Regions from separate parts of the Homo sapiens genome. Here all the other regions are linked to region 2. The links come from fine-mapping of genetic effects on gene expression. A gene starts in region 2. Each other region holds a variant in brackets. All regions are shown on one strand. Distances are from middle to middle.

What was found. PIP is the estimated chance that this variant, and not a neighbour inherited with it, causes the effect.
Region 1: its variant is fine-mapped to the expression of DOK4 in whole blood (TOPMed, PIP above 0.99).
Region 3: its variant is fine-mapped to the expression of DOK4 in lung (TOPMed, PIP above 0.99).

The regions. Positions count from the first base shown.
Region 1 is chr16:57,428,129-57,430,971 of GRCh38, reverse strand. CIAPIN1 (cytokine induced apoptosis inhibitor 1) reads left to right here. Exons shown (of 9, transcript NM_020313.4): 8 at 633-714; 9 at 1,692-2,785. The coding sequence ends at 1,802. Among named protein-coding and RNA genes, the nearest start is that of CIAPIN1, 18 kb to the left of the region's middle. The variant T/C (reference allele first, on the strand shown) is at 1,278.
Region 2 is chr16:57,485,066-57,487,710 of GRCh38, reverse strand. It overlaps DOK4 (docking protein 4), which reads left to right and starts at 1,218. Exons shown (of 9, transcript NM_018110.5): 1 at 1,218-1,406. RefSeq lists a silencer at 1,038-1,337 and an enhancer at 1,169-1,965.
Region 3 is chr16:57,512,245-57,514,744 of GRCh38, reverse strand. CCDC102A (coiled-coil domain containing 102A) reads left to right here. Exons shown (of 9, transcript NM_033212.4): 9 at 1,875-2,500. The coding sequence ends at 2,004. Among named protein-coding and RNA genes, the nearest start is that of CCDC102A, 23 kb to the left of the region's middle. The variant C/A (reference allele first, on the strand shown) is at 1,271.

The sequences.
Region 1 (2,843 bases), 57 kb after region 2:
GGTCCCAGCTACTTGGGAGGCAAAGGCAGGAGGATCACTTGAGCCTGGGAGGTCGAGGCTGCAGTGAGCCGTAATTGTGCCATGTATCTAATTTCACTCTCCCTCAAAACCCTACCAGTAAGCCACTATTGTGCCACTGCACTCCAGCATGGGCATCAGAGCGAGACCTTGGTGTCTTCACATTTGTTTTTATAAATGGATGGGAAGGATTGTAGAAAGTTAATCAGTGATGTTCATCATCAGCGTTAATCATCAGTGTTTTTTAAATGTAAAAGCTGCCAGCATTTACAAATCAGGAAATTTCAAGTGAAAACACAGATTTTTTTCCCTTCTGTTCTTGAATTTGGAAAATATGGCAATCTGGGTCCACTTTCCCCAGCATGATAACCAGCTGAAGCTTGAGTAGTGGCTGCCCTCTGTAGACAGAGCACACACGGTACTTCCCTCATCCTCCTCCCACTTCTGTCTCCCTCAGCAGCCTCTCATATTGCTGCTGTCTGCCTGGCCTATAGGCTTCTGAGTTATGACACTGGTGTGAAGAGAAAAGGCTTAAAGCACATTTTGGCACTGTTAGGATTTGGGATTTCTGGGTGGTGACAATTCTCGTTCATTAGTTACTGATTTTCCCGCAGCACCTGTGGCCTTGCCGAAGAACTGGAAAAAGAGAAGTCAAGGGAACAGATGAGCTCCCAACCCAAGTCAGCTTGTGGAAACGTAAATATCAGGATCATTCCTCAGCATTCACAAACCCCCAGGGGGATTAGACCTTCTTCTAAACTAAACACAGACAAGCTCCACCTCAAATATTTTAGTAACAGACGAATGCGTGAGCACACGAACGTAGGTAGTAATGGGGAGAGAGGCTGTCTCCTGAGAGTGAGAGTGGGTTAGCGTGCTTGTGCTGGTCAGGGAGGGTCTTGTTGCTTTTTATTTTTGGCCCATTTCTTTGTACTTCAGAGTGGGACCTGATGGTTAGACAGTTAGCTAAAGTTGGTTGTGTTTTGAACTGCATAGAATATAGAACTATGGCCGGGCGCAGTGGCTCACGTGTGTAATTCCAGCTATGCCAGAGGCTGAGGCGGGAGAATCACTTGAACCTGGGAGGTGGAGTGAGCTGAGATCGCACCACTGCACTCCAGCCTGGGTGACAGAGGGAGACTCCATCTCAAAAAAAAAAAAAGGCCGGGTGCGGTGGCTCACGCCTGTAATCCCAGCACTTTGGGAGGCCAAGGAGGGCGGATCACGAGGTCAGGAGATCGAGACCATCCTGGCTAACA[T/C]GGTGAAACCCCGTCTCTACTAAAAATACAAAAAAATTTGCCGGGCATGGTAGCGGGCGCCTGTAGTCCCAGCTACTTGGGAGGCTGAGGCAGGAGAATGGCGGGAACCCAGGAGGCGAAGCTTGCAGTGAGCTGAGATCGCGCCACTGCACTCCAGCCTGGGTGACAGAGGGAGACTCCATCTCAAAAACAAAAAAAAAAGAACTATGGCCTCCTAGGGAACTTTTCATGACTATAGTTTTTCACGAAACCAGAAATCTTGAAAACTCTTAGTATTTTGGTCTCAATTGGACCTGCAAACATAGCCATTTCCTTCAGGCCACTGTGGCCACATTATGAAATTAGGCATTTCTTTCTTCTGGCTGGTATGCCTGGGATAAGCTGACCCTTGGCTTCCCCATTCTCTCTCTCCAGTGCTACCTGGGCGATGCCTTCCGCTGTGCCAGCTGCCCCTACCTTGGGATGCCAGCCTTCAAACCTGGGGAAAAGGTGCTTCTGAGTGATAGCAATCTTCATGATGCCTAGGAGGTTCCTGACATGGGACCCATCTGCTCCTCCAGCCAACTCCTGTCCCTCACATCCCACCATGGTGGCTCCTCCCACCTCCTCTGGATTTGTTCACTCTGAGATCTGTTTGCAGAGTGGGTGCTTAGCAGACAGAGTGAAGCTGGCTGGGGGGCACAGTGGTGTGTAGTGCTGCTGTGTATCAAAAGACCAAGGTATTATGGGACCTGGTTTCAGAATGGGATGGGTTTCTTCACCTCATGTTAAGAGAAGGGAGTGTGTCCTGAAGAAGCCCTTCTTCTGATGTTAAAATGCTGACCAGAACGCTCTTGAGCCCAGGCATCGTTGAGCATTAACACTCTGTGACAGAGCTGCAGACCCCTGCCTTGAGTCTCATCTCAGCAATGCTGCCACCCTCTTGTCTTTCAGAGTTGTTAGTTTACTCCATTCTTTGTGACACGAGTCAAGTGGCTCACAACCTCCTCAGGGCACCAGAGGACTCACTCACTGGTTGCTGTGATGATATCCAGTGTCCCTCTGCCCCCTTCCATCCCCAACCACATTTGACTGTAGCATTGCATCTGTGTCCTGTTGTCATTTATGTTAACCTTCAGGTATTAAACTTGCTGCATATCTTGACATATCTTGAGATTCTGCATGTCTTGTAAAGAGAGGGGATGTGCATTTGTGTGTGATGTTGGATAGTCATCCACGCTCAGTTTGGACCATTGGAGGAACTTAGTGTCACGCACAAATGGGGCTATTCCTACGCTTAGAATAGGGCTTGTCTGCCCACTTTAGAAGAGTCCAGGTTGGTGAGCATTTAGAGGGAAGCAGGGCAGAACTCTGAACGACAATACGTCTCTCTGAGCAGAGACCCCTTTGTTCTTGTTATCCACCCATATGGACTTGGAATCAATCTTGCCAAATATTTGGAGAGATTGTGTGGATTTAAGAGACCTGGATTTTTATATTTTACCAGTAAATAAAAGTTTTCATTGATATCTGTCCTTGAAACTTGATTTGATTCTCCAAGTTTGCTTTGCTTATCCTAGTCCCTGC
Region 2 (2,645 bases):
GCTGATCACAGACACCACAATGACCATCAGGGAAATTTTCAGACATCCAGAGGCAGCCTCCTTTTAAGCTCCCTGGGCAAGGCTGAGGCCCAGGCGTCTCCGGGGCAGGGGCATGCATTCCATGGGTGGGTGTTGGGATCCTTGGTCCCTCACTGCTTTAGGCCTATTCCTCTGAGACACCTGGACAGTAGCTGGATGTGGAGGTATTTTCATTTCTCAGGATTTTGGCTGTTCAGGTGGCCTATTGTTTTGTTTTGTATATATGGTCTAAAGCAGTGGTTCTCACACATTCGTGTGCATCAGAATCACCTGGCCTGTTAAAACACACATTTCTGCTGGAAACCCCCAAAAATTCTGATTTCATAGGTCTGAGTAGGGCAGGGAATTTGCATTTCTAACAAGTTTCAAGGTGATGGGAAGCTTCTGGTCCAGGGACTACACTTTGAGAAGCCCTGGTGTAAAAAGGTACAGACGTGAAAACCAGAGGGGGGACAGCTCCTCCCCAGAGGAGGCACTGGGCAACTTCTCTTGTCCCTGCCTGGCACAGCTGAGGCCTGTGACTGGGGATTCCGACAGATCAGTGAGTCAACCACTGCACAGGCCCGAAGGGCAGAGGTGAGGGGGTTGGGGGCTGGGTGGGGGCAGCAATGAAGGGGAATGAAGTTTGAGCTTGAGGGCAAAGTCTCAGGGGGACCTAGAATGGGAGAACTGGATGTTTTGAGGGTGGAGAGGAGACCAGGGAAGACAGAGGTGCTGGTGCGGCTACTTGAGGAGGGGTAGCAGAGGAGGTCACTGTGGGGCTGGGAGAGCTGGGCTGTGAGGGCCCAGAGAGTCATGATGGGGTTAGGGGAGCAATGGGTGTGTATGTGATTCCTGAAGAAGTGAAGGAATTGAGATATGGGGGCTGGGAGCTGATGTGGCGTATGGGTGTGTATGTGATTCCTGAAGAAGTGAAGGGGTTGAGATGTGGGGGCTGGGAGCTGATGTGGAGTTCAGCTTTCAGGGGCTGAGAGGCCATGTGGGCTTTGGGGCCCAGGGAGGGGCGGTGGGAATGAGCTGGGGGTACCGGGGGCGACCTGAAGCGGGTGCGGGGGTGCCAGGGCGCCAGGGCAGAATCGCGCGTCCCGCGGCTCGGAGGAATACGGCGGGGGCCGGCCGCCAGGGCGGGGCAGGGGGCGGGGCGCAGCGGCGAGACCTGGCGGAGGGGGGAGCGGAGCGGAGTCCCAGCCGGAGCCCCAGCCGGAGCCCGATCCCTAGCCCTGCGGCCGCGCCTCCCTCGCCGTCCCCGCCTGGAGCCCGGCGCCGCCGCCGCCCTGCCGCCCCCGCCAGCCGCGCCGTGACGCGGGCATGAGCCTGCTCCGCGGCGCCGCTGAGCAGGCGCTCCTGGCCCGGGCCTCGGCGCCCAGGTAAATTGGGGGGCGTGAGGCAGGGAGGGGGACATAGGCCGCCCAGAGCCTGCAAGAGTCTCGGCGACTCCCACCCCTGAGGACCCTCAGTCACTTCCTGAACCTGAGGACGCTCCGTCCCATGGGACCTTCCTACTCTCGGGTGGGGAGCTTAGAGACCCGCCCCCCAAAAGCCAGTGCCTGGGCCCTGAAACTCCCTGCGCTCTCTCCACCCGCAGCTTTCCTCTCCGGGGGAGCCCAGGTCGCGAGCTGACCTCACCCGCACCCACACAAACCTCATCCGAGCAACCCAGGCCCTGCGCTCCCGGGCCTGCCCCCCCGGAAGGGGCATAACCCAGCCCCTGGCAGCTCCCAACCTTCTCTCTGCCTTCCTGCTCCTCCCCGGGGCCTCCTGTTCGCTCACCTCCTCCAAATTCCAAGAGATGATTTTCTGTACCCCAGCTGGCCCCCACTGCCGACCCCCTCCTGCCTATGGGGTTTCTCCCCACAGCCCAAACTCATGGCCAGCTGCCTCCTGTCCTTGAACCTTTCTCCATTGGCCCCCAAGGTCCTGTCCACCTTCTCCCCCAGGGCCCGCAAGGCCCTAGATCCAGTTACATGCTTTCTATTACTGAAAAGGGGCATGAGCCGAGGCTGGGCACCTGGGTGATGTGGCAGAGCAGGGGCTCTGTGCAGCCTGCCTGCCCCAAGCCATGGGGACACGTCAGTTGCTGGGGCGCTTCCGCTTGGATGGAGGGTGTGGGTTGGAGGGGTCTGATGGCCAGGGCAGCGAGGGGCCTGGCAGTATCTCTAGGAGACTCCACTTGGGCAGTGTGAGGTGGGCTTGCTTAGGGCAGGTTCTTTCCTGGACCCTTTCAGAGGGATGTGGCGCTGGTACAGGCTCTTCCTGCCCCCACCCCCAACTCTGATCCCAGGAGCTGTGCCTCCTCTCCCCAGTTGCTTGCCTTGCTGTGCTGGTACTGGTTACTCCCAGCACTTCCCTCCTGGGCAGGGCAGCAGGGCTGGGCATGACCTCACCCCACAACCCTGGCCAAGGTGGGGCCGCCCAACTAGGCCTGGCCTCGATGTCAGCAGCATGCTCTTCCCTGAGGCAGCTCTGAACCAAACTGCGGGTCTTGGGCACAGCTGGTTCTCCAGTAACAACAGCCTGCTGGCCATGCCAGTCAGCGCTGAGACCCAGGAGCTGGGAGCCCACTGTGGCTCACGCACCTCTGGAAGCTGAGCCAGGTCCAGCCAGAT
Region 3 (2,500 bases), 27 kb before region 2:
GTGCCGGGCCCTGAGAATGCACTTAGTTGCATTCTCTTCTTTCGTGGAATAGAGGGTGCCCGGTTCTGCAGCCAGACTGCCTGAATGGTCTGAAGCCTGGCTCAGCATTAGCAGCTGTGTGGCCTTGGGACATTTATTTAACCTCTCTGTGTCAGTTTCTTCATCTGTAAAATGGGGATGATGATAGTTCTTACCTCTTGATTGTTGTGAGTATTAAATGAGCTGATCCATTCTTAAGAAAGTACCTGGAGGCATGGTAGCTCACACCTGTAATCCCAACAGTTTGGAAGGCCAGGGCAAGAGGATTGCTTGAGACCAGGAGTTTGAGACCCCCTGGGCAACAAAGCAAGACCCCCATGTCTACAAAAAATACAAAACTTAGCCAGGCATGGTGGTGTGTGCCTGTAGTTCCAGCTACTTGGGAGACCGAGGCAGGAGGATCACTTGAGCTCAGGAGTTCATAGCTATAGTAGTGAGCTGTGATCACACCACGGTACTCCAGCCTGGGAGACAAAGTGAGATCCCGTCTCTAAGAAAAAAAGAAAGAAAACACCTGGCACATAATAAATGCTGAGTGATTGTCAGCAGCTGCTGCTATTACTACTGTTACTACTACCGCTGCGGAGGGGCTTATATTTGGGTTACATGTTGTGCATCAGCATCACGCTGCTTCTATGAGAGAAAGGAAAGATGTTTTTTCCTAGGGGGCTGGCAGATGAGGAAACTAAGGCCCAAGAGGGTAAGTCTTTCCATGGCCACACAGTTGGTGGGTGGCCAGGCAGAATCACCCCTGGCCATCAGCCATCCAAGCCCTTATTTATTGAGCATTTACTATATGCTGCTGTTTGCTGAGATCTTGTGGCTTAGAGAATGGGCTGCAGAGACCTAACAGCTATTGTGCCATGGTAAACTGAGCCTCGATTTCCCCATCTGCCTGGGATGACGCCCATAAAGTGTTGTGCAGGGGCCCAGGCGTGGGCCCAAGTCAGGACCCATGCCTGGCTGGCTCTGCCTGCTCTGACCCTGCAGCACACACCCTTCAAAAGACCACTTAGCCTTGGGGCTTTCCCGCAGTCTGGGTCACATTGTTCAGGAGCCATAAACTCCAGAAGTGGGCAGGCAGGCCCTGCTGGGCCTCTCAAGTGCTTCCATCGGGGAGGGTGGGGCCACCCAGGACCGCTGTGTCGTTTTATTTTCCAACTTTTTGTGCTTTAATGTTCCGGGGACAGCTCACTAAATCACTGTGCAGTAATGGAGGCCCCCGCCTGTG[C/A]CCCTCCCTTACGTGTTAATAATTCATGTCTTCCAGTAAGATGCAGCCGGGGCGGCCACTTTGCTGGGGGGTTGGGGGAGGGATCGGCATTTCCTTCACCAGCTCTTCTTAGACTCAAAGTTTTCCTCGTAAATTTTGACTTTAGGAATTTTAATGTGAGGAAGAACTAGGGCTGAGCCCTTTCTCACTGACACTGGGAATGTAGAGGGCTCAGCCCACCCTGCACTGTCACACCAACCAACTCTGCTGCCTGTGCTCTGAGAGCCAGGCTTGGGTTCAAATCCTGCAGCATGACCTTGAGCCAGCTCCTTCACCTCTCTAACCGCCCAGCTGCTCTGGCACCACCCACTTCAGTTCAGAGCTCTGCCCCACTCCCCACCATCTGTGTGACTTTGAGCAAATGACTTCACCTTTCTGTGCCTCGGTTTCCTTGCTTGTAAAATGGGGGTGATAATGGCACTTCTATCATATAAGGAGATTACAGGAGATGAGACAGCAGGGAAAGCACCAGGGAAGGCTTAACTGCTCCAGCACCAGCTGCAGCCACCTTATCGGGGGACTACCAGCCAGGCTGCTCTAACCTCCTGTCACCCCCACCCCACAGGCTCCGCAGGCAGCAGCAGAACGCTCCCCTCTTCGGGAAGATCCGCAGTGCTCGCTTTGGCACCGAGGAGGCCGAGGATGGAACCAGTGACCTGGACGAGGACGAGGACCTGCAAATCCAGGTGGCCTAGAGCTTCCTGTGGCTGGGCAGGATGGGCCGCCCCATACCTGCCCAGGGTCCAGGCTAACCAGCCACTCAAACTGATGCAGTGCCTAGGCTCACTCTGGGACCAGTCCCTGCCACAGCCGACTTTCTTCTCTCCCAGGGATGGCGTCAACAGTCCCACCTACCAACGCCCTGTGGAAAGGAAGCCTATGTTTTATATATATATATACACACACGCGCGCGCGCGCGCGCACACCCAGAAGTCTTTGGACCCATTTGGTTTTATAAATACAGGACAGCTCCAAGGCCCAGTCCAGATGACCTCACCCACCCAGGACTTCATGCAGGGCTGGGCATGTTGGGGGCAGTTGTTGGAGCCCCACCCTGGGCTGCCTCTCTAGGCTTCGCTGTTCATCATACAATGCAGTGAACCCAGTTATTTGTAATAAATGAAGTTCAAGTTCTTGGGGCATCTGAAAGTATGGCAGATGTGGGCGGGGGTTGTGGGGGACGGCATCGGC